Homo sapiens: one gene and its partners. The protein of the gene in region 1 purifies or fractionates together with the protein of each later gene. This does not show direct contact. Each region holds a gene or a part of one and is shown in the gene's direction. Other genes may lie near its edges.

Region 1 (4,294 bases):
GTCAGGAGTTCAAAACCAGCCTGGCCAACATGGTGAAACCCCGTCTCTACTAAAAATACAAAAATCAAAAATTATGGCCGGACACAGTGGCTCACGCCTGTAATCCCAGTGCTTTCGGGGGCCAAGGCGGGAGGGGATCACCTGAGGTCAGGAGTTTGAGACTAGCCTGGCCAACATGGCGAAACCCCATCTCTACTAAAAATGCAAAAATTAGCTGGGCATGGTGGCATGCATCTGTAATCCCAGGCTACTCGGGAGGCTGAGGCAGGAGAATAGCTTGAACCCAGGAGGCAGAGGTTGCAGTGAGCTGTGATCACGCCATTGCACTTCAGCCTGGGCAACAAGAACAAAAAGCTCCGTCTCAAAACAAAAAACAAAAATTAGCCAGGCGTAGTGGCAGGCGCCTGTAGTCCCAGGTACTTGGGAGGCTGAGGCAGGAGAATCACTTGAACCCAGGAGGCGGAGGCTGCAGTGAACTGAGACCACGCCACTGTACTCCAGCCTGGGCGACGGGAGTTCAACTGGGCAACAGTTTCATTCAAAACTCAAAAAAAAAGGAAGGTGGGTAAGGAGAGTCCATTATGAACAATGTCATTTCTCTCTGCTGAGGAAGGGGCCTAGATAGTTCCAAAGCAGTCAGAGTCAAGTCTCTGGGGTCGTGGGCGCCTTGCCCTTCTGAGGTCAGGATGGTGTCTGTTTGCCCGTCAGTCAACACTCCCATGTGTTTTCCCCTTCTGTGTCAGTTCCTGTGCTGCTTCTCCTGCCTGGAATGTGCTCCCCTTCACTTTGCTATCCAGTGAACTCCTATTCAGCCCTCAGGGCCTGGTGTCAGTGTCATCTCTGTGATACTCCCAGGGGAAATTATTGTCCCCAGACCCTAGAGCAAGGTGCTTAAGAGAGTTGGGGTTGGGCAGTATATGCTTTTCCAGCCACTTTCTTCTTGGGTAAAGGGCACCTCAGTGTCCTTACCTGGGGCCTGGACCAATGTAATAGGGGCGGAGTTCCCTCTGCTATGGGATACCTCCAATAGGGGAGTGGTTTCCCAGAGGAGTTTGGGGTTTCTCAATAAGAATGTGACATTTTGGCTTCCCAGAAATGTAAAAAATAAAGAGTGTGACAGGGTGGCTGCTCTGTCTCCCCCAGACCCCTGTGAGAGGATAGACATTGTTTTCCTAGGGTCCAGACGGGAGAGGGAGCCTCACTCACTTATTTCACAGATATTTCCTAAGTGTTATATACCAGGCACTATCCTCGGGATGAATAAGAGAGACAAAGTCCTGGGCCTCATGAACCTCACGATGAGTGTGTGTATAGGGGGGAAAATACGCTGAACAAGTAATTAAGGGTTAACAAGTGTGACAAGGGGAAGCACAGCAATCTCTGAGGGAGGTCAGGGATGGCTTCCCCAGGGAGGTGGCGCTTGAGCTGAAATGGAAGGATGAAAGGAAGCTGGGATTGAAGGGTTTGTGGCACTGGCCTCAGGCAAAGCACGTGCTAGGGACTTGGGACCAGCTGGCTATCTGGGGTTCCGTGGGATCCAGGGATTGCTGTACCTCACTATTTTGAATACCCGAAGGGCAGAGACTGGGTTGACAGACTCTTCCCTCTGCCCTGGCCAGCACAAGGCCTGGCTAAGTGGCCTTGGATGATAGGTAATGCTCCAGTATGGGCCCCCAGAGATGGGCATCTCCGGATCCTAGACTCTCAGAGCTCATGGCCCGAGATGTCATAGGGAGCCCTCATGGTACATACAGATGGGGCAGCTGAGGCCCGGAGGAGGAAGTGACTTGCTCAAGTTCACATGGCCATCTAGTGTCAGAGGCAGAAGAAAAGCCCACAACTGCCAGGCCTTCAGCTTCTTCACTCCTTTCTTCAGACTTCAAATGGAAAATCGCATCCCAGAGAGGTGCCTCTGCTAGGGGTGTGAAGAGCTGAGAAGGAAGCAAGGCCAAGGGAGTCTTCCCTGCCCTCCCCTCAACACCTTCAGGGGCTCCTTCCAGCTCTCTCTCCCTCACCCTTCTCTTGGAAATTCCCCTTGGGCCTGAAAGGGGCTCTCAATCAGTGTGCTCTCCCCATACTGTACCCTCCCTGCAGTCCCTGAAGCAGGGCTCCTAGCAAGGGTTGAACTGTGGTGGCCAAGCCCTGTGACCCCAAAAATCTGCATTCTCTTGTCAGCAGAGGGCAGAGTGAGAGCCTCCCCTCAGCACTTGCTCCTTGGAAATCCCTCTCTCTCCAGACCCTCAAAGCTGTCTCAGCTGCTCATGGCCTGTCACATGCTAAAGAAAACGAATAAGAGGAAGCATTGTATGTTATTTGGGCCACAGTGAACATGGTGGGGTTGGAGGAGCAGGGACACACACCTTCCTTGTGCGGACCCAAAGGCCACCTCTAGCCCGTTGGCAGACTTGGGGAAGTCAGCCAAGTCCCTGCAGCTTCCTTGGTTAGGAGGAGTGAAATCTCTGTCCGCCTCCCCCATCGTTAGTTATACCCCACTGTACTCTATGCCCTTGTACTCCACTGTCCTGAGGGGCTGATTCATTAAAAGACTGTCAGCCCACTCACAGGGTGCCCATCTCTGTGCTTGGCATGGAAGGGGCGATAGAGACAGCTCAGCTCACAGAGGATTTAAACCCTGAATCTTGTAGCAAAGTGCGTGATTCCCAGGAGGCTCCTGGTAGGGAGATTACTAAGTGAGGCCTCCTGTCTGCTTAGGACACCCCCTCCTCCAAGTCTAGCCAAGTGAGGTCTTCCCCACCATTTTCATTTTTATTTTTTGAGACAGAGTTTCGCTCTTGTTTCCCAGGCTGGAGTGCAGTGGTGCGATCTCTGCTCACCGCAACCTCCACCTCCTGGGTTCAAGTGATTCTCCTGCCTCAGCCTCCCGAGTAGCTGGGATTATAGGCGCCTGCCACCATGCCCAGCAAATTTTTGTATTTTTAGTAGAGACGGGGTTTCACCATGTTGGCCAGGCTGGTCTTAAACTGCTGACCTTGTGATCTGCCCGCCTCAGCCTTCCAAAGTGCTGGGATTACAGGCATGAGCCACAGCGCCCGGCCCCTTTTATTTATTTATTTATTTTTTTGAGACAGTCTCGCTGTGTCACCCAGGCTGGAGTGCAGTGGTGTGATCTCAGCTCACTGCAACCTCTGACTCCCAGGTTCAAGCGAATCTCCTGCCTCAGCCTCCCAAGTAGCCGGGACTACAGGTGCCCGCCACCATGCCTGGCTAATTTTGTATTTTTAGTAGACACGGGGTTTCACCGTGTTGGTCAGGCTGGTCTTGAACTCCCGACCTCAGGTGATCTGCCCGCCTCTACCTCCCAAAGTGCTGGGATTACAGGCATGAGCCACCGTGCCTGGCCTTCCCCACCATTTTCTAAGAGGGTCACGAGGCATTCCAGCTCATTCTTGTGGTTCCTGGAGTTCTGGTCCATATGCCTTCCATACCACCTACTTCTTCCCACCAGTCCTAGCCTAGCCTGTCCTGTGTTCTTGGCAGTGGGCAGTACTCCTCCCACAGGATCCTGGAGCAAGCACTGCCTTTGCAGTGAAAGTATTTATGCGCTATCATCACTACCTCCGTCAGTATGCAAGCGTCACCGTTGCTACTACAGCTAATCTACAAGCCCCACCATCTCCACCTCCACCAGTTTCTATTAAACACATAGGTACACCTACTATGTGCTGAGCCTGGGGTTACTCAAAGGAGTCAGACAATCACTGCTCTTCAGGAAACTGTTCTGGTTGGAAAGGCAGACACTAAAACTATTGTCTGAAGGCAAGTTCTGGGATGGTGAACACGGGGTGCAGGGGAGCCCTGGGGTGTGATCAGTACTATATCAGAAGGCAGCACTAATGTCTGTGGGGCCTTCATTAAGGAAGCACTGAGCTGGGGGAAGAGGGGGTGCAAGGAAGACTTCATGGAGGAGCAGCATGTAGAGCAGGGCATTGAGAATGAAAAGGCACCTTTCAGGCCAAGGTGGAAGAGGGGATGGCAGGTGTGAACGCCTGGAGTTGTGTGCTGGAGGGTGGCAAGCAGTTTTGTGTGGTTGTAGCTCTGAGAAGAAGATTCTCATCTCAGAGATGAGGTCGGAGATGAGGCTGAACTGGTGGGCAGGGGCAGCTCCTCCAACGCTTCTTGTGAAGGCCAAGGAACCTGCCACACTTCAGAAATCCTTTGAGCCTCTTCACATACCTGTCCTCACTTAATTCATGCCAAGAAATTTAGACTTTATCCTTGGGTATTCCCTCTACTCCCCCATACTAACTGTTCTTTTTATGGGCCCCAGTTTCCC
Region 2 (4,294 bases), on another chromosome or scaffold:
CTCAAATGAAAACTTAATAAATATTATATTAAAATGTTTAACTACAAAATACCCTTAATACATAACTGAAAATTCAGTGAGACAATCTTTCCTTTTTAAGGACAGGAAAGTGATTGTGAAAACAATGAAGACTTATGTTGAAAAGGTGGCTAATGTAAGTATAATAAAACTACATATTCTAATTATTTTTGATAGTAAGATGAATTCATGTCTATTATAGAAAATTTGGAAAAATTCAGAAAATTACCAAGCAGAAAATTATTGTTTTATTATATTTTTCTTTGCATCTACATGTATTTTCATATTTTATCTACACAAAATGGAAATCATGTCACATGCATTCTTTTCTCCTTTTTTAATTTAACATTGTATTGTGATAGTTCTCTACTTTTATTAGATATTCTTTGAAAACCTGATATTTACTAGCTTTTTTGGTGAATTTGTCCAGTCATGTTAATTAAATATGGGAATTACTGCCTGGATACAGTATGTACATATTTTAGTCTCTGGGTAAATGATGCCAGATTGCACTTCAGAAACTTGATAGTAGTTTTCCTTATGACCAAAACCATAAAAGAAATTAAAATGTATCTTTTTTTTAAGAATAAATTTGCAGTGTGGTTATGGAAATTTTTAGTTGTTAAATTTTATAGCTCTTTAGAAATGCAGTAACAATTTTCCTAATGAAATTCATAGGTACAAAAGTTTTTTCTGGGGGATTTGTTGCTTCAAAAATAGTGTTTATATGTTTTTAGTTATTAAATAATTTTTCATGCTGTTGCTATGGTGTACTGTAACTAGAATATATGTAGTGAATACAATTTTAATTTTTGAGTTATACTTTATATATTTGATGGATAACAAATTTCTAATTTATTGATGAACTAAAATTATGTAGTAATCAACTACTTTATCCTTTGAAAACATCCAGTGAGAACTACTAGCATCTGGGGAATACTTCAACTTGTTTGAAATACTAAATCAAACAAGTTAAAATTAATGCTGTGTGATTGTGTACTTGACTATTGTCTTCTGTTGGGCTAGAAATTAGAAGAATTCAGAAGGCAGCTAACGTTCCTATAATAAAGTGAAATATGGAATTCTCATATTTTTTATAATTCATAATTCAATATTCATATATATTTCATAATTCATAATTATAATATGAATTATAATGTTATATATTATATAACATTATATTATTATGTTATAAATATAAATATAATTCATAATTATAATTCATAATTCAATATTAAGTAAATTTTTTTGCGTGACATTCTAATTTGAATACCTTACATTAAAATGAGTAAAAACTAGAATGTTAATAGAAAATTCACAAAGGTATTAAGAGTATAACATTTTAAAATAATAAAATTATATTGTTTTAGTTCTACAGTTTGTTTATGTCAGGTAATTTAACACTAAGTACATATCTTTTTAAATCTCGAAGAGTTACTTCTAAAGGGGTGATAAGCTAACGTTACCCATGGATTTGATCCATGGATTATTTGGAATTATTAATTTCCAAATATTGGGGGTTTCTGGATATATTCTATATTCTTTTGTTCCTTTTAAATTTACTGAGACCTGTTTTATGGCCTAACATATGGTCTAAGTATTTTGAAAATAATATATTGTAGAGTTGTTTGGTGGGGTATTCTATATTTGTCAATTAGATCAAAGTAGTTGACAGTGTTCATACCATCAGTGTTTTTACTGACTTATTATTTTCTAGTTCTATCAGTTGCTGAGAGAAACATGTTAAAATTTCCAACTATACTTGTGGATTTGTCTGTTTCTCACTTACATTCAATTCTGTACCACCTTCTGTTGTATTCACCTAGAAATATTTTATGCTTGGTTATGCTTATGTGTGTCCGAGTTAAGAGAACTGAAACCAGTGATTTTGTACTAGGCACGTTGTTCTATATTTTGTCTCCTTCACTTAATTCATATTATGGGTCATTTTATTTCAATATACATACATCTGTCTACCTCACTTTTCTTAGTGACTGTAATATTTCATCGTGTGCCTATACCATAATTTATTTAACCAGTCCCCACTGTTGGGCATTTTGGTAGTTTCTAGAGTTTTTAAAATTACAATTAGTACCCCAGTGAATATATTCATATGTAAGTCTTTGTACTTACATGGAAACACGTCTGCAAGATAAATCCCTAGAACTAGAATCACTGGATCAGCTCATACCTGCATTTTAAATTTGTATAGGTGTTGTCAATTGCTCTTCAAAGAAGTTGAACCACTTTACATTCTCATCAACATAAAAGCGTGCCTGCTTTTCCCTAAACCTTTGATAAATTAGTCTATTGTCAGAGGTTTTCACCATCACCCATAGGATAAATGGCATTTCATTGTTTTAATTATTGTCCTTAATTAGTTCATAAAGCATTATTTCATACATTTAAAGACATTTGTACTTCTGTTTTAGTGTGATCTGACTCTTCATGTTCTTTTTTTTTTTTTTTTTTTGAGACAGAGTCTTGCTCTGTCGCCCAGGCTGGAGTGCCGTGGCGCGATCTGGGCTCACTGCAAGCTCCGCCTCCCAGGTTCACGCCATTCTCCTGCCTCAGCCTCCTGAGTAGCTGGGACTACAGGCGCCCACCACCATGCCCAGCTAATGTTTTGTATTAGTAGTAGAGATGGGGTTTCACCCTGTTAGCCAGGATGGTCTCGATCTCCTGACCTCGTGATCCACCAGCCTCAGCTTTCCAAAGTGCTGGGATTACAGGCGTGAGCTACCGCACCTGGCTTTGCCCATTTTTAGTTGGTTGTTGGTCTTTGTATAGTAAGACCTTTGTTGTTTGTCTTCAGTTTGTCTTTTTGACTTTACAGTTAGCAACTTCGTTATTGTTTCTAATTGAAATTGTATTATCTGTGATATTTATCAGATCTGGCTCTGAATGATTGTGGGCTATTATCAAAAATCAAATTCCTATCAGAGTTTGAAACAATTATATCAACATCCAGGATACTCATGCCACAAGCTCTGGAAACAGGTTTTTGTTTTCTTTTGTTTTTGTTCTTAACATAAAGTAGGTGTTCTTTAAATGTTTGGAACAGTATTAGCATCATGGAAATAATTTTATTTCAAAAGATGAGTGTTGTGAAAGCCACATGTGTATTTCTGTGATCTCATGCAGCTATACTTTTTTTAAAGTAATGATTTTTATATCATTCTCATTCAGTGTATAATTATACTCTTCTAGTTTATTTTTTCATATTTATATTCTAATTTTGTGAGATCACTTTAAAGAAATTGAGCAATATAGAAAAGAAAATTAAAAATCATTTGTATAACCCAGAGATGACTATTACAATGCCTTGCCTTCCAGGATTTTCTGTGTACATGTATTATGTATATCGTGTGTGTGTGTGTATGTGTGTAAAATTGTATGAGTTTATATTTTCTTTTTCATGATTGGAGTATCATATATGTGTTTATATATGTAGGTTTTTTGAAGTTAATCTTATAACTTGAACTTTTAAGTATAATTTTCAAGTAGCTATTCATTAACAGTAACCTATGTAAATAGGTATTAGTTTTAGACTATTTGGTAATGAATAATGTGCTTTAAAAAAAAATCAACCTTACCTCTAGAATATAATTAATGAGGTCGTGATAAGAGAGGAAGTTCATTAAAATGGCTTTTATTCATCTTGTTATGTTAGACAAGTTGTCAATGTAGGTAATCTTTTTTTTTTTTTTTTTTTGAGCGGAGTCTCGCTCTACCTTTATGAAGATATTCCATGTGTGAAATAAGAGGGAAGATCTATGCACTTGTTTTTAACCTTTGCTGGCTTCCAATTCTTGCAGGGCCAATACTCCCATTTGGTTTTACTGGCGGCATTTGATTGTATTGATGATACTAAGCTTGTGAAGCAGATAATCATATCAGTAAGTAATCCTGATGGTCTTGAATTTAAGTTACATCGATAAACCAGTTGTGGATGTGTAAGCTTGATTTCACCATGCATGTGTAAAGACTTGCAGCTGTGCCTTCTATCAGTATTTTTGCTTACTTTTAAGTTAATTATGTTTTATTTTGGAGGTTTGTTTTATTCCTGTGTAAATCTTAACCTTGTAACTTGATATTAATACTGTTTTAAATATTTAAGACTGGTCAAATTAAGATTTAACACTTTTATTTTGGATTAGGATAACATGGTACTTTAGAACATACGTGATTCTAAACTATGGAAAATTAGCAAAGTGATATTTAGATATGATCAGAAACTAGCATAGTAATTCCTTAGTTATTCCAGAACTCAAAT
Region 3 (4,294 bases), on another chromosome or scaffold:
AAACTAAACCCACGAACTTTCTTTTTAAAATTTTTTTTTTAGACAGTCTCACTCTTTTGCCTAGGCTGGAGTGCAGTGGCACAATCTTGGCTCACTGCAACCTCTGCCTCCCGGGTTCAAGCAATCCTCCTGCCTCAGCCTCCCAAGTAGCTGAGATTACAGGTGCCCACCACCACGCCTGACTAAATTTTTTATTTTTAGTAGAGATGGGGTTTCACCATGTTGGCCAGCTGGTCTTGAACTCCTGACCTCAAGTGATCCACCCACCTCAGCCTCCTAAAGTGCTGGGATTACAGGCATGAGCCACCACGCCGGCCATTCCATGAGCTTTCTGACCACAGTAGATAGAGGGAAAGCAGAAAGGACTTCAAAGATTTTGTGGGTCAGCAGAACCTTTTGCAGTCCTCACAGTTTACAGACTAAGGCTGGTGTGAATCATGCATATTATAGGTCAGACTCAAGAGGCTGAGCAAACCATTGCTTCTGTTCCTAAAAGCGATCAATTATTTTGGCTTCTTTTAAACCAGTCCAATTTTTTTAAAAATAAGAAATATATTTTAAAATGTTTCTGCCAGCTCTTTATACACTGTGGCTGCTGCTTCTTTTTTCTCTGCAGTGTTCTCTGTCTTCATCAGAAGAAGAAAGATTTATTTCCATCAGGAGACCTAAAACACCAGCCTCAAGTGACTTCTCCGACCTTAATACTCAGACGAACTGGACCAAGTCGCTTCCACTGCCAACACCAGAAGAGAAGATGCGACAGCAAGCCCAAACAGTCCAGGCTGACGTGGTGCCTATTAACATAACTGGTACGCTTTGCTAGCCAGACAGGTTCAGAATGTACTTGGGAGAATGACTACAGCTTTTTGTTTTATGCTGTTAGCATTTCATTGCTACATCAAAGGTGAATAGCTGTGGTCCAACTTCATGCTCTTTGTTTAATGAGAGGAATATTAAAACTACATATGTGTGTGCATATAAAATGTCTACTGCTTGTTGGGTTCGAAGACTATGTCGCCAAACACTGGTGTCAAAGAACTCAGTGGTCCAACCATTCATCTTAAGAGTGTCTCTTTTAATTAAATTGCTTTTTAGTAAGCCTTTGGTTATATGGAAACATCTTGTAAATGTGGTCCTAGGTATGAAGAAAAAGTATATATTTCCCTTCTAAAGGGTTAAGTAATATTTACAGAAGTAAATAATTATTTTGTGATGTTTCTAATGATAGATTTTCTAGAAATTTCCTAAAGTAGAAAAAAGGAGACATTACTTATTTCTTCTGAATATAAAATTTTCAGAATATGTTATATTAAGCTAGACTACAAATATTAATTGCCAAACCTGAAATTCAAGTTCTTATGGAATATTATACTCAGCCTGTAATCATTTGTGACAATTAAGGTGACAAGGTACATAAAATTCAAAGATGATCTTTCATGAACTTAGGAGAGCTGCTAAAAAGATAGCAAAATTGGCTGGGCGTGGTGGCTCACACCTGTAATCCCAGCACTTTGGGAGGCTGAGGCGGGCAGATCACCTGAGGTCAGGAGTTTGAGACCAGCCTGGCCAACGTGGTGAAACCCTGTCTGTACTAAAAATACAAAATTAGCAGGGCGTGGTGGCACGTGCGTGTAATCCCAGCTACTCTGGAGTCTGAGGCAGGAGAATTGCTTCAACCCGGGAGGCAGAGGTTGCAGTGAGCCGAGAGATCGCACCATTGCACTCCAGCCTGGGCAAAAAGGAGCAAAACTTCACCTCAAAAAAAAAAAAAAAAAATCAAAATTTTCCTGCCTTATCACCTCCATAGCCCACAAGGAGCATGGGTTAGTGGTTTGGGGAGGGCACAAAGTGCAAAATAGACATGTGAAGAGTTAATAGCTTCAACTATTAATTGAATTGTATGTTTGATGGAAGCAGATGACTAATAGTGGTCATTGATAATCAAGTCATACAAAGCAGGGCCCTTAAGGCCAGAAGCTAACAAAAAAACTAGGTGACCAAAAAGAATGAGTTTTCCTGAACATTTACTCTGGAAACCCATAGCATCCTTGCTGTGCTTCTGAGGCTACTGCTGTTAGAAAGCTTTAGAAAGCTTTTTGCCATGGCACTGGTGAGCTTGTAAGGGGCTAATAGCATTTTCATAGTCACCGAAGATTTTTTTTAAAACCTTACCAGATATTTAGAAATTACATTTAGAACTCATATTTTAAATTCCATAGAAATTTAATAAATAAGTGCATGAATTATTTTCAATTCAGTATATATTTTTCCACATTTATTTTACTTAAATCTTAAAAGAATAGCAGGGCATTTTAAGCCATTTTCTCAGCAAACAGTGTTATTGATCTTTCTGAATATGTTTCTTATTTACCGAGATCATATTTTTTAAAGATTATTTTTAAAAGTATAACTATGTTTTAGAACAAAGTATAATGTGTACTGGTCAATGAAATACAAGGCTGCTTATTTTCTATAAGAAAATGAATTACATTATTTGATTGATTAAATGCAGCAGAAATGTAATTACATTATATATAATTAAGTGCCTATGAAATAATATTATAAGATAAGAAGATTGTGCAATGAAATATGACAATCCTTAATGGAATTAAGGTGAAATGCATTATCTTGAGATTAAGAGATTTAAAATAGAGTAATTAGAGTTTCAGGAATGAAGAATTATTTGCAATGAATTACACTGTCACAACAGAAGACAGTGTCATGTCTCTGAGCTTTAATTCTATCCTATCTGATGACTAAGTAGAGATGAATTAGACTTTAAAGAGAGGCCTTTAAAATGCTACTCAGGAAAGGTGAATGACAATAAAGAAAGAGCAGTATGAGTTATGTCAAAATGTAATTTACTTTTAATCGAGTGATTAACATTTTGCAGAAATGCCAAAAGTAAATATAATACCTAATCACGTATTTATTGATCCATTTTCTACATCTGTGTGTTCACATATACACACATATTTCTTAAAGAATTAGTTTTTCTAATCTGTCATAAAGAAGCAATAAATTTAAAATTTTCACTTTTAGTGGTTGAATTGACATAGGTTATACAGCTTCCTGCTCTTTAAATTATGTATTTCTAAAGTCCTAGAAGATATTTGAGATTAAAAAAAGAAAATTCCTCTAGGGAACTGTCATGTGCTCGTTCGCTGGGGTGAGCATTGAGCCTCTAGTTTGATTTTCCTAGTAAGGCTCAGCAGGAAAAAAAAAAAAAAAATGGCGATTTCAAATCCAGAGTGCAGCCCACCATGCATAGAGGTAGAATGTTAGCACCATGAGCTGCTGGCTTGAAAATTGATTTAATCCCTTTAGTTATAGTCTTGTGGGCACTCGGCATGTTCTAAAACTGGAGGAAAAAATACTTAATATGTACATATAAATATCTTCTATCATCTGCTATGTGGGACAACAACTCTTCCATCTGGAAGATAAGTGTAGAGGATAAACATACTTAAATAATTTTTACAAACTGGCTTTGTGCTGGTGTTTGAGCTATCCAAGTTTATTTCTTTTTTTTTTTTTAATTTAAAAGAGTTTAATTGAGCAATGAACAATTCATGAATTGGGCAGCCTCCAGAGCCAGAGTATGCCCACAGACTTTCAAGTTTATTTCTAAATAGTAACCATGACTGATGAATGCCATTTTTCAATTAAAGGCAGTGAGTAATTCAACAGATATTTATTGAATAACTGCTTTGTGCCAGGCATTAGCTGAGTGCCATAGGGGATGCTAAAGTACATGCATCACAGTCTGTACCCTCAAAAAATGTATAATCCAGTAGAAGAGACTTTTAGGTCATGATGCAAGATCAAGCATTTGGTGCCTTCAATGACGTGTGTCTTAGGTGTTCATCCTCAAATGGTTTGTTTCTTAATTTTCTGGGAGCTTGGGTGATTTTATCTTTTGTCTAGGAAGCAAAACTGGAGACTAAATGCAACTTTATTTTATTTTATTTTATTTTTTGATATGGAGGTCTCACTCTGTCGCCCATGCTGGCATGCAGTGGCGCAATCTCGGCTCACTGCAACCTCCGCCTCCCAGGCTCAAGCGATCCTTCCACCTCAGCCTCCTGAGTAGGTGGGACTACAGGCACATGCCACCACACCCAGATACCTTTTTTTGTATTTTTGGTAGAGACAGGATTTCACCATGTTGCTTAGACTGGTCTTGAACGCCTGAGTTCAAGTGATCCACCCACCTCAACTCTCCAATGTGCTGGGATTATAGGTATGAGCCACCACACTGGCCTAAGTGTAACTTTCTATTAATGTTTTGTCT
Region 4 (4,294 bases), on another chromosome or scaffold:
TTGCCTCCTTTTGGCCATTAAACAAATGTGTATAGAGGGCCTGCTATGTGCCATGTGCTATGCCAGGCACTAAGGATACGGCACTGAACCCTCTTAGCACTCTCATTCCAGAGGGGATTAATCCATAAGTAGAATGGGGGTGACTGGAATAGGGCCAGCTGGGGGCTTGGAGGCATGAAGATCAGATCCTGAATCAGAACAACAGGAGAAATTCTCTGGCATTCAACTCACATCTCTGGCATTCAGAGGTGATAAAGGCTACAGCAGGGCAATAGGACTGGGACTGTCGTCTCCTTTGGCTGTGCTGTTGCCCTCTAAATGTACCCTGCTTTTTCCCACCTTTTCTTTCTCTGTTCGCCCTCACTGTGCCTTGTCCCAGCATTCTCAGACACCATCCACATTGAACCCCACAATGCCAGCCTCTGAGCGGACAGTGGCCTGGGTCTCCAACATGCCTCACCTGTCGGCTGACATCGAGAGTGCCCACATCGAGCGGGAAGAGTACAAGCTCAAGGAGTACTCAAAATCGATGGATGAGAGCCGGCTGGATAGGGTACGATGGGCTCTACCAGCTCCAAGCCCCAGTGTTTCCTTTTACCCACAGGGGAGATCTCTAGTCACTTCCAAGGGAAACCTCCAGGGTCAGTTATGGTGGTAAGAAAAGGCAAAGACCTGATCACCTCTTGAGAAGCCTTCCGTCCATCTGGGGAGACCAGATACACACAGTTGTTAAAAGTCACTTTCAACTCTATTTTGTAGGTTATATATATCATAGACTATCTGGGGATCATCTATTTTAGGCTTACCTCCATGTTCTTCCCCAGGAGGAACATAAGCCCTGGCTCCTGTGACTGCTTAGGAAAGGAAATGTTACTTTACTGGCAGTAGGAGCTAATAAATTGGATGGGGATGGAGGGGGTTGCAGCTATATTACAAGTGATGTCTGGCCTACCCAGTCACTGTCCCATGGGCATAAGTGACAGTCAGTGGGCAGGGAATGCATGTGGTAAAGTAGTATGTATCAGTCATGTGTGAAAAGACCATCCAGACCCTCACTTGGTGGAGGCTGAGGGCAAAGGGCACCAAGAGCTCTGGGGCTAACACAGATAACTTAGCAGAAAGTTACTTGAGGAAGCTGTTGTTCCTAGGGCCTGAGGAAGAGGGCGGCTGCAGGATTAGGTCATATATAAAGAACATATGATCCTAACACGGGGAAGTGGTCTTTGAGCATAGGAAATGTTGGGACTGACTCAGATGGGCTTGACCAGCAAATTTAATGAGAATTAAACCCTAATATTAGCCCCAAGGCAGCCACCGTAGGAAGTTAATTCACATCTCTCCTCTGCATGTAGAAGGGTTGGTGATATATGTATGTATCCTCTTCAGAGAATGAGGAAATAGTCTTTTGAATCATTTTTTTTTCTGTGCTTCAGATGAGGAAACCTTGTTGAGAAAGGCTGTAGACTAGCACTATCCAATATAACTTTCTGCAGTGATGAAATGTTCTGTAATCTGTAGTGTTCACATGTGTCTAGTTGTGATTCAGGAACTGAATTTTTAGATCTATTTAATTTTAATTTTGTAATTTTTTTGAGACAGGGTCTTGCTCTGTCACCCAGGCTGGAGTGCAGTGGTGCAAACATGGCTCGAGGCAACCTCCGCCTCCTGGGCTCAAGACATCCTCCCACCTCAGCCCCCTGAGTAGCTAGGACTACAGGGTCGTGCTACCATGCCTGGCTAGTTTTTTTTCTTTTCTTTTTTTTTTTTTTTTTTTTTTGTAGAGACGGGGTTTTGCCATGTTGCCCAGGCTGGTCTAGAACTTGTGAGCTCAAGTGATCTACCTGCCTCAGCCTTCCAAAGTGCTGGGATTACAGGTGTTGAGCCACTGTGCCTGGCCTAAATTTTAAATAGCTACATGTGGGCTGGTGGCTACCATATTAGACAGCACAGCTGTAGACTCTAGAGCCAATAGGGCAGATAAAATGACTCTTCTGAGCTCTTCCAGCTCTGGAATTCCTAGATTCTCAGCCTAGAATTCACTTGTAGACCTCCTATCCTTGGCACCTTGACAGAGCCAAGGAGAGGGTCACATGGAGGACAGCACCTGCCTTTCCCCCGTCAATTGCCTTTTCTTCCTATGTCTCCAGCATGTGTTCTGGGGCCTGGCTTAGGGCTGAAGAGTCACCCTATTTTTAATTTCTGAGCACAGTTACTCAAGGTGTGTTTGTGAGTGTAGGTTTCTGTGTGGGTCTTCATGAGGGGCCATACATAGACCTCAGGGTGTGGGAGTCTGTGACCTTGCTCCATTTTGAGGGAACCTCAGCACCATGGCAGGGTCTTCTCAAAAGCAGGTGTGTGGATATGATCCACAGGCAGGGAAGGGGTTGGGGAAGGCAGCTGGATGTCCCTCAACATGCAGTGGCTGTGCTTGGCAGACAGGGATGGAGGCTGGGTGGTGGGCTTGGGGTGGGGCGCCCCTCATAGTGCGGGGTCGTGTGCCCGGCGGGCAGGTGAAGGAGTACGAGGAGGAGATTCACTCACTGAAAGAGCGGCTGCACATGTCCAACCGGAAGCTGGAAGAGTATGAGCGGAGGCTGCTGTCCCAGGAAGAACAAACCAGCAAAATCCTGATGCAGTATCAGGCCCGACTGGAGCAGAGTGAGAAGAGGCTAAGGCAGCAGCAGGCAGAGAAGGATTCCCAGATCAAGAGCATCATTGGCAGGTGAGGGGCGGCCTGGGGAGGGGGTTGTGAGGGAGAGCCTGAGGCTGGAGAGAGCAAGTGGGTGAGCTACTCCGCTGACTCCCATCCCCAAACTCAGGAGCCCACCAGGAGAGCCCACCACTCTCCTCCCCAGGAAGCCACCCACTCACTCATCACCAGATGGAGAGAAACCCCAACCTGCTTAGTGCATTAAATATCTCTTTACCAAACCCTGACCTCTCTTCTGATAGAGTAGCTTCGGAAGCCCTTGGAAAATGTACCTGTTCCTGTCCAACCATCACTGCATTTGCATTTACCCTAGGCCAGAGCTCCCCACTAGTTATTCTCAACTTAACCTGTGATGTTCACTCCAAACCTAAGCAGGGCTCCCTAGCCAGAGTAGGCCCTGCCCTTCCTGGGTGGACCCTCCCTCTCTAGCCTTGGAAAGGTGTTCTGTTAGAAAGGGTCTTTTAGCCTGTGTATGTTTTCAGCTGCTCCAGCAAGTCCTGGGCTCCAAAGAGGGTATCCTCAGCAAAGAGGTCAATTATCTTCAGAGTGGTGGGGTCGGGGTGGGGGGGACCCTGGGCGCACTCCAACCAGAGCCACCTCCATTTTGATCCATTCTAAATGTATTTTATGTAAGATTTAATTAGAAGAAAAGGGCTTCTTGAAATATTTTTTGAAAACCACTGCTCTAATTGATATCCTTTATGATAAATCACCTCGAGGATCTTCACAGTGAGGTGACATGGGGGATGCAGAAGCCAGGTCCTCAGCCATGGAAGGTCTGGGGAAGGGGCACTGCTGTCCTGATTGGGACGATGGAGGCCTGGAGGTGTCTGGATGGTAGAAGTCTTTGAGGCACAGAAAGCTGCCTTAGCAGGGAGGTGTAAGGGTTCCTGGGAGGAAGGTGGAGAGCATGATCCTGAGGAACAGGGAGTCTTGCATCACGGCAATGGAGGGACTCTGATTCTAAGGGATAAGGATGCCTGAGGTTTTTCCAGAGAGCTATGGGGTTCCATGGGCAGGCTCTGAGCCTGTGCCCGCCACTAACCCCACTGAAGCCCGTCCCTTCAGGCTGATGCTGGTGGAGGAGGAGCTGCGCCGGGACCACCCCGCCATGGCTGAGCCGCTGCCAGAACCCAAGAAGAGGCTGCTCGACGCTCAGGTGGAAATTACAATGTCATTTATCTTCTCCGTGTCCCATCCCCATCCATCCCACTGTCTTTCGTGCACTCACTACACCAGCCACCTAGCCCCATCACCATCTGTCTCTCATAGTCTGCTGTTTGTCCACTGGCTGCTCCTGGCAGCCCCCTAGTGACCCCATCTTCATCCCATCGTCTGTGCCTTTGTCACTCCTGGCAGCGTCAGCCCAACTCCTGTGCCTTCCCATCCAGTCTTCCCACTCCTCTCTGCATCTCAGGACCTTCTCTACCAGAACCTTGGTCTTTCTGCCCCTAGACCCCACCTAGTTCCAAGAACCCCTGCCCCTTCTTTGCTCACTCCTATTCAAGCCACGTTGTTCAGCTTCCTCTGCGCTCTTGGGCCAGAGGGCTAGAAGCTGCCGTTTTCTGGAATAGAGCACAGGGC
Region 5 (4,294 bases), 4.8 Mb from region 1:
ACTTTTTTCTGACTTCAGGTCTGGCAGTATATTACTTTGATGCGTCGGATATTCCTGATTGACTGTCCAGGTGTGGTTTACCCCTCTGAGGACTCCGAGACAGACATTGTGCTAAAAGGAGTTGTGAGTATTTGGCCCTGATAGGCTGTTTGTGTTTGCGGGGGAGTGTTCTATAGGGAACCCTGGATACCTTTCCTTTTTACTTATTAAGAAGGCAGTTTGGGGTCAGCCTGTCTGACCAAACTTTAGGAACATGATGCTGAACAGCAGCCTCTCAGCATAAGCTGTTTGAGGAATTAGTGGAACCATGGGCATATCTGGTCAATATCATCCCACAAAAGAGTTTGTAGTTTACACACAGGATCCAAAGGGAAGCAGGGCCTGTTTATGCTTAGCGATAATTCGTCTTCGTGGGTTTATGGGTTGAGTCATTTTGGAACCCAGTCATTTCCTCACTTGTTTCTGAATACGACTGAAAAACTGTAAATGGTTCCACTTAACCTTGACCATGCTTCTGGCTATACATCCTGTACACATTCCTCCTCTCCTTTCTTAAACTATTCCATTATTTTTGTGTCCTGGGATGGGCAGGCTTTTAACCATTTCTGCAAGTGAGTAACATGAAGCATTCCAAGTTTAAACTGTGGCAGCCACACAGTTAGTTTGTGGTGAGTGGGGATTAAAGCTGAGTTCTGGGCTCCGTGGCTATGGTCAGCTTTCAGCAGTGCTCCTTGCAGCTGACCATGTCTAGCCCCGTCAGAGACAGGCTCCTGCCAATCTCCACGAGCTTTGTGATGTTGAAGTCTATTTTCAAATAGTGCTGCAAAGGACACTGGGAACTTCACTGCTTCCACAACAAAGTTTGTAAGTGAGAGATTTCCTATTAACATTTAGGTTCAAGTAGAAAAAATTAAGAGTCCTGAAGACCACATTGGTGCTGTACTTGAACGAGCAAAGCCAGAATATATCAGCAAAACATACAAGATTGATTCTTGGGAGAATGCTGAGGACTTTCTTGAGAAGCTCGCTTTCCGGACTGGGAAGTTACTAAAGGTGACCCGGCGTTTGTGAGAATTTAGACTGATACTTGTCACAAGCATGTATGTATATGATATGGGCCTTTTTTTGGTATGCATGTATGAGCAGTGTGAAACTTGTCACTTAAGTGATGATGAACCCCTGGGACAACTGAAATACCCCCAAAGTGGTAGGTGGTTTTGGTCCTTTGAATTTAATTGGGAATCTCTTTGTGACCTTTCAGGGTGGAGAGCCCGACTTGCAGACTGTGGGTAAGATGGTCCTCAATGACTGGCAGAGGGGCCGGATTCCTTTCTTTGTCAAGCCACCCAATGCAGAGCCACTTGTGGCCCCCCAGGTAAGAGCAGGGTGGGCCCACCTCTGGGGAGCATGGGTCCTGACCTAGATTTGGTGTAGCTTGTGATTGTCTCTCTTCATAGAGCGTGTATTCATTCAGCTGCGGTGTCTCTCATTTTATTATTTTTTTAAATATATAAAAATATTTTTGGGGCCGGGCATGGGTGGCTCACGCCTGTAATCCCAGCACTTTGGGAGGCCGAGGTAGGTGGATCACAAGGTCAGGAGTTCAAGACCAGCCTGACCAATATGGTGAAACCCTGTCTCTACTAAAAATACAAAAATTAACCTAGCATGATGGCACGCTCCTGTAGTCCCAGCTACTCGGGAGGCTGAGGCAAGAGAATTGCTTGAACCCAGGAGACAAGTTGCAGTGAGCCGAGATCGTGCCACTGCACTCTAGCCTGGGCAATAGAGGGAGACTCCATCTCAAAAAAATAAAAAAAAATTTTTTTGAGGGTGAAGCACTGTTGGGAGCCACTGCTGGCCCATGGCGATCACTCCACCCTCTCTCATTCTAGAGTGCCAGTGCCATGGCCTTGCTAGGGGGTGCATTTGGAGACTAATAAGTAGACATATGAGAGAAGACCAAACTTAGATACTAGCCTTTAGGGCCTTGGAAAAAGAGGGCTCATTAAATGTAAGTGATCTTCTGGTACCTGTATCTTTTCTTATGCTTACGAAACAGAATCATTGCTAAGATAACATTTGTTTAACAAACATTTATTAGCATCGACTATGTGCCAGGCACAGGGAATATAGGAACGAAAAACAGCCCTGGCCCTCAAAAAACCTGTGATCCAGTGGGAAAGGAGAGTGGTACTACTGATAGTCGGAGAAAGAAGACTGAAGGCTGGGGCCAGAAGCTCTCCTACTATCCCCATTTCCCTCACCCTGGCAGTGGGCCGCCACAAGGCTCAACGTTAACGTTTTGCCTTTCTGGTTCTAGGACCTTTTTCAGAACCCAGCCAAGTCTCTTGAAATGGTGGCTTCAAATTGTGCATCTATGCTTGCTAGTGTCGTTGGGTCCATACAGTGCTGGTTTCCTCTCACCTGACCCCATTCCAAGTTGCAGTTGCAGCTAGGTATTTTCAGTTGAATGTATTCTGCAGCATTTGAAAGTTAGCCTGAAACTGATGTTAATTGACATTCTCCCTTCTCCCTGCCCAAACCATCAAACAACCAAACAAAAATTTCTCTCCCTCTTCATGTGTATTGCATCTTTCATTCATTAATTCACTGATACATTCACCCAGCAATCCCATATTGAGTGTCTCCTGTTGGCCACAGACTCTTCTGGGTACTGGTGGTGCTGTGGTGAGAAACTGACAAGCTGCTGCTCTCCTGCACATATATTCCAGCAGGGGAGTGTGTGGTTTCTTCTGACACCAAATACATAATTTTTTTCCATATCAGTTCTGCAGTTCTCAGATACCAGCTGAGTGTCCCAACAATTTAATTCAGTTGTGACACTAACTCCCGGAGTTAGCACAGACCCCACAAGTTAAGGACTAGGTCCCCTGCTTCAGATGGCAGCTTCAGGCTATCCACACTTACGCCCGGCTAACTACAAATTCAGGGGTTCTGGGGTTTGATAATTTGCCAGAAGGACTCCCAGAACCCAGGAAAGTGCTGTGTTTACAATTAACGGTTTATGATAAAGGATGAAACTCAGTCACAGCCAGTGGAAGAGGTGCACAGGGTAAGGTATGGGGGAGAGGCACAGAGCTTCCATGCCCTCTCCACACATTGATGTGTTCAGCAACCCAGAGCTTTCCAAACCCCATCATGTAGGGGTTTTTATGGAGGTTTCATTACATAGACATGACTGATGAAATCTGTGGCAGTTGGTGATAGACTCAATTTCTGGTCTCCCTTCTCTCCTCTGAGTGGCTGAAAGCACCAACCATGTGGTCAAGTGCTTTGTCTTTCTGGTGACCAGCGCATCCCCCATCCTGAAGCTATCTAGGGGTCTACCATGAGTCACCACATTAGCATAAACTCAGGTGTGGTGGAAAGGGGCTTGTAATCAATAAAAAAGATACCCATCGCTTGGGAAATTCCAAGGGTCTTAGGAGCTCTGTGCCAGGAAGTGTGACATTTATATCACAGGGAGACAGTAGGCAGATAAACATATAATGTCAGGAAGTCTTGCGTGCTGTGAGGAAAACTAAACCAGGCTAAGGGGTTTGGGGGAGATGAGGAGTACTTTGGGGTGGTCGGGGAAGGCCTCTGAGGCAGTGGCACTTCAGCAGAGCCCTTAATATGAGACAGGAGCCATGCTAGTATCTAGGGAGAATGTTCCAGGCAAGGGGAACAGCACATCCAGAGCAGCTGGGGCAGGAGTATGCTCTGTGTGTCCTGATGCTGAAAGGAGGTCACTGTGGCTGGAATGTCGTGGGCCAGGAGAGGGTGTCATGGTGGGAAGCCATTGGAGGTTTTGAGTTAGCAGCTGGATTCTAGGGTCATTCTGGATGTCCGTATCACTGCTGTCTTGGGACCCTGTGTGGAAACACTGGCATTGTCTTCAGCCCTTCCTCCGTATGTAGTCAGTAAGTGTAGATAAGTAGTTCAGATAATTCTTAAGAACTATTGTAACCATAATAGATTTGTTGCCCAATGCACACAGCAAGTCAATATGCTGAGACACCACCAGGTTGCAGCAGAGAAAGAAGTTTAACCGTAGGGTCACCAAAGGAGGAGATGGGAGGAATCCTGAAATCATTTCCACGAGGAGTTTGGGGTTAGGGTTTTAAGGGTTTTGGAGTGGGCTGGAGTGAGGGTCATTGGTTGGGTGAAGAGTGCAGGGTGAAGTCACGGACAGGGAGATGAAGAAGCTGTGTTCTCATGCAGATCCCGTTTCTCTGGGGATCTTCAAACTGGTTGCTGGAATTAGGGATCTGAAAAGACATTTTAAGCA
Region 6 (4,084 bases), on another chromosome or scaffold:
TTAAAAATACTAACCCATTAGATAACCAGCATACTTTTATAACTACTCTCTATCTTTGGCAGAATATTCAGTGTCATCTATGAATCCGCTTAACTAAGCAAACATAAACAGTTAAATAGTCGTCTAAATAAACAAGTGAGACCACCACTTGCAAGCCCTATCTGCCGTATTCCTCCCTTGAGATATCTGGCTCACTGTATCTGACACACAACTATTTACTTTATAGACAGAGTCAAGGCACCAATGTCAGTGTACAAGAAAAGTAGTAATGATGTTAAATTTTTTAAGGAAAAAGAGATATGTGGAAGTTTTGAATATTTTCTTCCTACACTTCAGCGGATACCCTTGAAGTGTAAACACCCCACTCTAGAGAACAACATGGAACATCGCTGTAGCCCTTTTTTTTTTTAAGATGGAGTCTTGCTCTGTTGCCCAGGCTGGAGTGCAGTGGCGTGATCTCGGCTCACTGCAAGTTCCGCCTCCTGGGTTCACACCATTCTCCTGCCTCAGCCTCCCGAGTAGCTGGGACTATAGGCGCCCGCTAACATGCCTGGCTAATTTTCCATGTGCCCCTACACAGTTTTACGTAATCATTCTAACATAACTTACAGATATAACACTTTAAAACCCTCTATGACTTTCACTATCAAATTAATGCACCATCCTGGGCTATTGTGTGGTAGTACAGGTTGATGTCATGTGTCATCTCCAATGAGAGATCACTGGAGGAAGAGATTTTTACCTATTCTGTCACATGGAATCTAGCATGATTTTAGAAAATGTAAACGAATGAAGATTTCTGTTCTCTTTTCTCAGCTTTTACAAAGTCTGGCTCCAGAGTTGCTAGATTATTTCTGAGACACTTAAATGTATATAGACTTACATGCTTTGTATCTATCAAAGCCTGTGTTAGAATTTAATTTAGAATGTTGTTTACAAAACCATAGGAATTTCAAAATGGAAATGTTCCCAAGGAAGTTTACAAGAGAAAGAAGAAGAAATCTATCTCGTTGGAAAGGCAAAAGCCAGTATTAGCAAGGAGGGGAAATAATTACATTGTCTTTCTTATAAACAACTTGGTAGTTTCTTCCATTTTTATAAGATGAGTAATGAGCACTGATGAATTAAACAGATTTGCTCTTTCCCCCTTATAGGAAAAGGCATTAATAGCTGCTCAGCTGGACAATGCCATTGAGAAGGAATTACTGGAGAGACTGAAACAAGATACGGTGAGAAAGCCATTAGCTTTGGGGTACTGAAATTTTAAGTGGTAGTATGTTGCTAAGACATATTGGGAATTTTTTTTTTTTTTTTTTTTTTTTTTTTTTTTTTTTTTTTTTTTTTTTTGAGATGGAGTCTTGCTTTGTTGCCCAGGTTAGAGTGCAGTGGTGCAATCTCGGCTCACTGCAACCTCTGCCTCCCAAGTTCAAGCAATTCTCCTGCCTCAGCCTCCTGAGTAGTTGGGATTACAGGCACCACCACTGCACCCAGCTAATTTTTGTATTTTTAGTAGAGACAGGGTTTCACCATCTTGGCCAGGCTGGTCTTGAACTCCTGACCTCGTGAGCCACTGTGCCTGGCTGGGAAATGTTTTTTAACATGATATGAAGATCTCCACTCGAATTTTATCCCTGGAATAAAATAAATCCATATCGGCCTGGCTTCCTTGCTTTAATTAATGCAAGCACATAAAATGCTTTGGTTACCCTTGATACTCCATTCACTATAAGAGACCTTTCCCTTTTTGCCATTATTCTCAGCTCCATTCCCCAAGACAACAATTCCAGATTTCTGTATAAAAGCCATGGGGTTTTGCTTCTCCTGCATATTACCCTAGTCTTTTAAGGCTCTTTGAAATAAGTTTTTATTCTCTTTTTAAAAATTAGTGTTGTTTATACAGACAACATGACTAAAGTATGCTTTTTCCTTATTATTTCCCCTTGTCAGCAAAATGACATTTGTCCCAATGCATGGGTTTTGTAGACTATTACATTTTAAATTATTTTAAAATGTAACTCCATAGAAGTTACCTATTTGATACTAACTGCAGATGATTTAAATGTTCAAAAGAACATGCTTTTTTAAGACACTGCTGGCTCTACACTTAAAAATATTACTCATCAAATTAAGTATTCTGATTTAATCACTGAGGAAAAAGTAATATTCTCCACAGAAAGTGGAACTTCAAGTGTAATATCCAAATGTAGTTAAAGCCAATCTGTGTTTATGTTCTTCAGTATGGCGACATCTACAACTTCCCCATTCATGCCTTCGACAAAGCCCTGGAACAACAGGAGGCAGAGAGTGACTCTTCAGATACTGAGGAAAAAGATGATGATGATGATGATGAGGAAGTAAGTCTTGTTTTTGTTTTGCCAAACCTACTAGATACCATTTGTATAAAACTGAGAAACAGAATATCATCTTCAGTCCGCTAACCAAAAATGATATGTCTTCTTTTTTCTTTCATGTGATTAATTTTGGTTTAGCACTGGTTGCTCTGTTCTTCAGGCTAACCAACAAACCATTAACAATTTTAGTCTTAATTTATTGGTCTTCTAAAATTGTTCCTGCAAGGTGACAAATTATAAAGCCTTTCCTGTCTATATGTAGTTTTTAACCATAATGAGGATGTTTTATTGCTAATAATTTAAATCAAGAATAAGAATGATCTGGTAGCCCTAAAATTTTTAAAATTCAGAAGCATTAAATTTAGAAAGAACTAAATTTTCATTGCCTAGTGAAAAGACTGTGGTTCTCATTATGTTATTTTGTACTTACTTAGATGTCTAATCTGAATCTTCATTATGTATTCTGAACCTAACAGTTATGTTTTATTTATAGGATGTGGGGAAAAGAGAATTTGTCGAAGATGGTGAGGTAGATGAGAGTGACATAAGTGATTTTGAGGTGAGCTTTATGGGTAAAAAGATTGTCCTTTGGCCTGCAGCAAAAAAAAAAAAAAAACAAAAACAGGGAGGTGGCCAGGCACCGTGGTTCACTCCTATAATTGCAGCACTTTGGGAGGCCAAAATGGGAGGATTGTTTGAGCTCAGGAGTTCGAGACCAGCCTGAAGAACATAGTGAGACCTCATCTCTAATAAAAAAAAAAATTTTTTTTTTTAGATGAAGTTTCGCTCTGTAGCTCAGGCTAGAGTGCCATAGTGCAATCTGGGCTCATCGCAGCCTCAGCCTCCCGGGTTCAAGCGATTCTCCTCCTTCAGCCTCCCAAGTAGCTGGAATTACAGGCATGTGCCACTCCACCCGGCTAATTTTTTGTATTTTTAGTAGACACGGGGTTTCACCATGTTGGCCAGGCTGGTCTAGAACTCCAGACCTCTGGTAATCCGCCTGCCTCAGTCTCCCAAAGTGCTAAGATTAGAGGCATGAGTCACAGGGCCTGGCCTAAAATTTTTTAAAAATCATGACCAGGCGTGGTGGCTCACGCCTATAATCCTAGCACTTTGGGAGGCCGAGGTGGGCGGATCACATGAGGTCAGGAGTTCGAGACCAGCCTGGCCAACATAGCAAAACCCCGTGTCTACTAAAAATACAAAAATTAGCTAGGTATGGTGGTGCATGCCTGTAATCCCTGCTACTTGGGAGGCTGAGGCAGAAGAATCGCTTGAACCTAGGAGATGGAGGTTGCAGTGAGCTGAGAGCGCACCACTACACTCCAGCCTGGGCAACAGAGCGAGACTCCGTCTCCAAAAAAAAAAAAAAAAAAAATTAAAATTCAGCTGGATGTGGTGGCGGTTGCCTGTAGTCCCAGCTACTCAGGAAGCTGAGGTGGGAGGATTGTTGACTACAGCAGTTTGAGGCTGCAGTGAGCCATGACTATGCCACTGCACTCCTGCTTGGGCAACAGAGCAAGACCCCGTCTCAAAAAAAAAAAAAAAAAAAAATTAAAGAAAGGGACAATTTCTGAACACAGACATAGACAAATCAATGCCCTAGTCTGTTCTAGATTGAGGGGACAAGGAAGGGAGTTTGGAGAAATCTAGTGTTTTCCCTCTTCCTTTATCTTTTCTCTCCCCGTAATAGGATATGGATAAACTGGATGCCAGCAGTGATGAAGATCAGG
Region 7 (4,294 bases), on another chromosome or scaffold:
TGATGCAGGTCTGACACTGTCATCATGTCGTCCCTTCCCCATCACTCTTGGAACAGCCTGTGCCTGCCCTCTCTCCCTCTAGTGCCTCGCAAGCACTTCCCATCCTTTTCCTCCTTCCTCACACTTGCCTCCCCCCTTCACCTAACTGAACCCCTGCTCTCCGGTCGTGTCCCAGCTCCACAGTCACTTCCGTGAGGACGTCATGGAGGACGTCCGTCTTCCATGAACTTCTGGCCAGGCTGGAGCCCCTCTTTGTATGCCAACATGGCGCCGTGTGCCTGCCCTTGGTAACACTTGTCAGCTTGCCACAGTCCTCCATCTGCGTTTACCTCTGCGATTCGTTGACTGTTCCTCATAGGCTGTGAGCACCCTGAGCAGAGAGCTTGTGGCTGGTTTTCCTCAGCACCATACCCAGCACCTAGCACAGTGCCTGGCACAAAACAGGCTTAGGCAGCACTGGCGGAAGGGGCTGGATGGATGATGCTGGAGCCCAGCACTCGGCATTGCGCCCTGACCCATGCCCCCAGTCGGCCCTGGGACCCACAGGACCTGCCACGGCCCCCAACGACCCAAGTGTCAGTCACAGTTGGATCTTGGTGACCAACTTCTGCCTAGGGGGTGCTAGGTGCTTAGAAGGAGCAGAGAAGAGAAGAGGCACAGACTGTAACCAGACAGCTTCCTCTCCCCCTGGAAAAACATGATTGGAGCAAGAGGAAATTGCCTGGGCTCAAGGAATGTTAAGCAAATAGAGGACACCTGTGGGTCCAGCCAGGCCCCGGAGTACTGAGGACACCAGAATAGGGAATAATTGTGCCAGAGCCAAGTTCATCCCGCGGAGGCTTCCTGGATGAAGCAGGCCTGGAGCTGTTTCTCATCCCTTTGGGGAGCAGCCTGCCCCTGTCCTTCCTCCGGGGAACCTGAGCTGAGAGCAGCAGGCTTGGCCCCCAGCTGGGTGCTGGAGCTGGCTGAGCCTCACTGTTGTGTTTCAGGGCCCATCCTCCCACCAGGACATCCTTCATCTGCAGCCAGCGCCCCCGTCTCATGTAGTGGGCCTCCACCGCCCCCCCCACCCCCAGTCCCACCTCCACCCACTGGGGCTACCCCACCTCCCCCACCCCCACTGCCAGCCGGAGGAGCCCAGGGGTCCAGCCACGACGAGAGCTCCATGTCAGGACTGGCCGCTGCCATAGCTGGGGCCAAGCTGAGAAGAGTCCAACGGGTAAGAGCTCCTGTGTGCGGGGTGGGAATGGGACCGAGGGGACCCTTGTGCCATCTGCAGAGCGCTTGTGTTCCTTCCCGCATCTGCGAGACACAGCAAACTGCTTCCCTGCCCAAAGCTAGCTGGCCCTTGGCCACTTGTTCTCAAACGAGAAATCACATGGGACAGCACTTTGAAATTATGAAGTTAGCCTTTGAGCCTCACGTTGACCTTCACACGTGGGGCAAGAACTATGTCCCCCTTTAGAGATGAGGAAATTGAAGCACAAAGAGCACGAGTAATTTGCTCAAGTCACACCGTTTACAAATTGCAGATTTTGGACTCAAGCCTGGGTCTCCTGAATCTATGTCCATTGCCCTTTCCACTGTAGGAAGCTGTATGCTGGCAACTAGGTCCACCCGGCTGTTTCTTCCCTAACCCTTGCTCATATGTTCTAGAACTGTGCTTGTAAGAATAGCTCTAATACAGACCTTTGGCTTACATTGTGTTTCCTTCCCACAGGATAGTCTCTTCTCCCCTCCCTCCCTCCCTCCATGTGTCATGGCTGGTCTTGGCAAAGACACTAACCATGAGTCTGCAGGCCTGGGGAGTGTCTGCGACTTGTGTGACCTGGGCTGGTCCTTGTCCCTCTCTCGATTCTGGTTTTCTCCCCTGTGGGGTTGGAGAATAATGGACCAGATGGCCCCTGAGGCCCCTTGCAGTGCTGCTGCCATAGGATTCACACGCACACAGTCCCCTGCATCCCCTCACATCGTTGCTGCTCCTGTTCTGCCATCAGCAGCAGAATCTAAAACGCGGCCTCCTTTTTCCTCAGCCAGAAGACGCATCTGGAGGCTCCAGTCCCAGTGGGACCTCAAAGTCCGATGCCAACCGGGCAAGCAGCGGGGGTGGCGGAGGAGGCCTCATGGAGGAAATGAACAAACTGCTGGCCAAGAGGTGGGTCTCTACACCTCCCGAGACTTGGTGTGCCTAGCAGGAAGCTCCTGCCCCCGCCCCCAGCGCTGCACAGAGAATCCTCTCTTGACCCCAGAATCTTTGTTCCCTGGGTTTAGCCAAGCAGGGGAAACTGTTACTTAAGTTTTCCCTTCCCAAGGGGTTAGTCTGAAGCGCAAGCCCACAGGAGTCCTCTAAACTCCAGATCCTTCATTTTAGCTCAGCAAATATTTCCTGAAGCATCTACCATGTACCAGCCCTGTCCTGAGCAGAGATAAATGTGGAGACAATTTCAGAGATAAATGCGGGAAAAAGAACAGTCCTTGCTCTTAAGATCCTAACAGAAATAAGATGTGGCCGCAGTGGTCGAGTTTGCAGAGGACACTCTGGTGAATGTGTGGTGAAGGCACCCCATTCTCCAGGGTTCTTTATGGAGGACTCAGGAGAAGGAGTTATGAAGGGTAGGAGCCCAGAGGGCATTGCCCTGAGCGACGGAGAGAGAGTAGTTCCATCTACATCCCGGCCGGGCTCTTGGGCCTGAGACCTGGCCATGTGTGTCTGCTCGCTGCAGCGGGTGTGGCTGCAGCCTGCCATTGTGGCTCTCCGCTGTTCCCCAAATGAAACCCGAGCAGATGGGGAGATCGTCCAGGTCTTTCTCAAAAGGGATGCAAAGCTTGGATTTTATTTTTAAATATGACTTGGCATCAGGAATGTGCTCACCTTGGACTACCAATATCGTGGCTCACTTAGGCACCAGAGGGCACGGGAGTAGGCCTCACCTGCCAGAACAGAGGAAGCTGCAGCGGGGGCCCTGCTCCCTTGGTAACCCCACCTCCACCCCCTGCCACTTTGTCGCCTTCTCCTGGCCCTCCCAGCTGCCTTCCAATTGGCTGACCCAAGTGAGAACTCTGTGTGCCCAGGGTCTTCACACTGCAGTCCTAGTTCCTCTCATTACCTTCCCGTGGCTCCATGAGGATGATGCGAGATGACAGAGGCCCACAGCTGCAGGCAGCTGGTGTGGCGCTTCATGGCAGGGCCACAGCCTGGGTTTCCTGCCAAGGGGCTCTTTGCTTGCATCACAGATGGCAGGGAGGGGAGGCTCCCCGTGTGTCAGGGAGCAGCAAGGTGGATCCGCAGCACGGGCGTCTCCGGAGCCTCTACTGGGCCTGGGCGTTTGTACATCGCCAAGACAGGAGGCAGGCTTCTGAGCAGTTTCCTGTGAGAGTAAGTCCAGGTGTGTGGGGCTTACAGTGGCCACACAAAGGCGAATGGCTCCGTGGGTGAGAGAGCCGGGAGGGCTCGCAGAACGATGAGGACGTCCCGTGCTGTAAGAGGGACAGTGGGCAGAGTTAAGGTAAGGCTGGGAAGGCTGACGCCCCCTGTGCCTGGAGAGCTAGGTGTGGAGGAAATGGACCAAAAGTCAGGCTGGAAGAGGGAGCCTCCTGGTGCAGGGCATCGGGTTCCACCTCAGAGCACTCAGAGGCGAGGATGGGCCACAGAGAAATAGAAATAGTTTTGGAAAAGAAAATATGAATGCTTTCCCTAAGTCCTAGACCAAGCTGAGGGGAAGCACCTTTCTGTCTGAGAACAGGAAAAGGCCAGTATTGCCAGGAGCCAGTGAGATGCCAGATGCCGGTGGGAGAGTCAAGGCCCTCCCAAGAACAAACATGCTTTGCATAGCTCAGCAGGGATCAATCAGGTGCTCTCTGAAATCCACCTCAGTGATGGCTACTGGGTGGAGCCGACGATGAAAGTGCCCTTGCCAGGTTTCTTTTCATGTAGGTTGTCTCCCGCCTCTGAGGGCATGCAGTTGAGTCTCCCAACAGTGGAGGGCAGGAGGGAAATGAACGTGGACAGAAAGCTCCTGTTCAGCAGCACTTTCACAGACACTCATCCCGCCTACACTCCCCGTGAGCAGGTGGCTTGGTCAGCGTTCTGTTTCTAGGAGATGGGACACTGGCTGCTGGGGGGTAGCTGGTGAGGTGTAAGTGATCGTGGCTAGGCCAGTTAGGAGACTCTGACAGTCCAGGAAGAGATGATAGGGGCATGCAGGAAGGTGTTGAAGGTGAAGACAAAAAAGACAGGCAGGTACCCAGATTTAGAGAACTGACCAGGCTGACAGTTATAAGAAGCTGGTGTCAG

Evidence for each region.
Region 2: the proteins of NHSL3 (region 1) and PUM3 purify together in Homo sapiens (affinity purification with mass spectrometry; one large-scale study listed by BioGRID and IntAct). This does not show direct contact.
Region 3: the proteins of NHSL3 (region 1) and NHSL1 purify together in Homo sapiens (affinity purification with mass spectrometry; one large-scale study listed by BioGRID and IntAct). This does not show direct contact.
Region 4: the proteins of NHSL3 (region 1) and SYNGAP1 purify together in Homo sapiens (co-immunoprecipitation; one large-scale study listed by IntAct). This does not show direct contact.
Region 5: the proteins of NHSL3 (region 1) and GNL2 purify together in Homo sapiens (affinity purification with mass spectrometry; one large-scale study listed by BioGRID and IntAct). This does not show direct contact.
Region 6: the proteins of NHSL3 (region 1) and MAK16 purify together in Homo sapiens (affinity purification with mass spectrometry; one large-scale study listed by BioGRID and IntAct). This does not show direct contact.
Region 7: the proteins of NHSL3 (region 1) and EVL purify together in Homo sapiens (affinity purification with mass spectrometry; one large-scale study listed by BioGRID and IntAct). This does not show direct contact.

Annotation. Positions count from the first base shown.
Region 1 is NC_000001.11:32,747,750-32,752,043, forward strand, and holds part of NHSL3 (NHS-like protein 3), read left to right. Parts: intron 1-4,294. UniProt on the Homo sapiens protein: Able to directly activate the TNF-NFkappaB signaling pathway.
Region 2 is NC_000009.12:2,819,641-2,823,934, reverse strand, and holds part of PUM3 (pumilio homolog 3), read left to right. Parts: intron 1-100; coding exon 101-154; intron 155-3,836; coding exon 3,837-3,917; intron 3,918-4,294. UniProt on the Homo sapiens protein: Inhibits the poly(ADP-ribosyl)ation activity of PARP1 and the degradation of PARP1 by CASP3 following genotoxic stress. Binds to double-stranded RNA or DNA without sequence specificity. Involved in development of the eye and of primordial germ cells.
Region 3 is NC_000006.12:138,443,516-138,447,809, reverse strand, and holds part of NHSL1 (NHS-like protein 1), read left to right. Parts: intron 1-616; coding exon 617-809; intron 810-4,294.
Region 4 is NC_000006.12:33,444,065-33,448,358, forward strand, and holds part of SYNGAP1 (ras/Rap GTPase-activating protein SynGAP), read left to right. Parts: intron 1-379; coding exon 380-553; intron 554-2,510; coding exon 2,511-2,722; exon of another isoform or gene 2,723-2,734; intron 2,735-3,765; coding exon of another isoform or gene 3,766-3,778; coding exon 3,779-3,869; coding exon of another isoform or gene 3,870-3,872; intron 3,873-4,294. UniProt on the Homo sapiens protein: Major constituent of the PSD essential for postsynaptic signaling. Inhibitory regulator of the Ras-cAMP pathway.
Region 5 is NC_000001.11:37,571,424-37,575,717, reverse strand, and holds part of GNL2 (nucleolar GTP-binding protein 2), read left to right. Parts: intron 1-18; coding exon 19-123; intron 124-894; coding exon 895-1,053; intron 1,054-1,261; coding exon 1,262-1,375; intron 1,376-4,294. UniProt on the Homo sapiens protein: GTPase that associates with pre-60S ribosomal subunits in the nucleolus and is required for their nuclear export and maturation.
Region 6 is NC_000008.11:33,494,388-33,498,471, forward strand, and holds part of MAK16 (protein MAK16 homolog), read left to right. Parts: intron 1-1,154; coding exon 1,155-1,229; intron 1,230-2,237; coding exon 2,238-2,354; intron 2,355-2,844; coding exon 2,845-2,910; intron 2,911-4,044; coding exon 4,045-4,084.
Region 7 is NC_000014.9:100,127,530-100,131,823, forward strand, and holds part of EVL (ena/VASP-like protein), read left to right. Parts: intron 1-989; coding exon 990-1,219; intron 1,220-2,033; coding exon 2,034-2,155; intron 2,156-2,802; exon of another isoform or gene 2,803-2,931; intron 2,932-3,107; exon of another isoform or gene 3,108-4,294. UniProt on the Homo sapiens protein: Ena/VASP proteins are actin-associated proteins involved in a range of processes dependent on cytoskeleton remodeling and cell polarity such as axon guidance and lamellipodial and filopodial dynamics in migrating cells.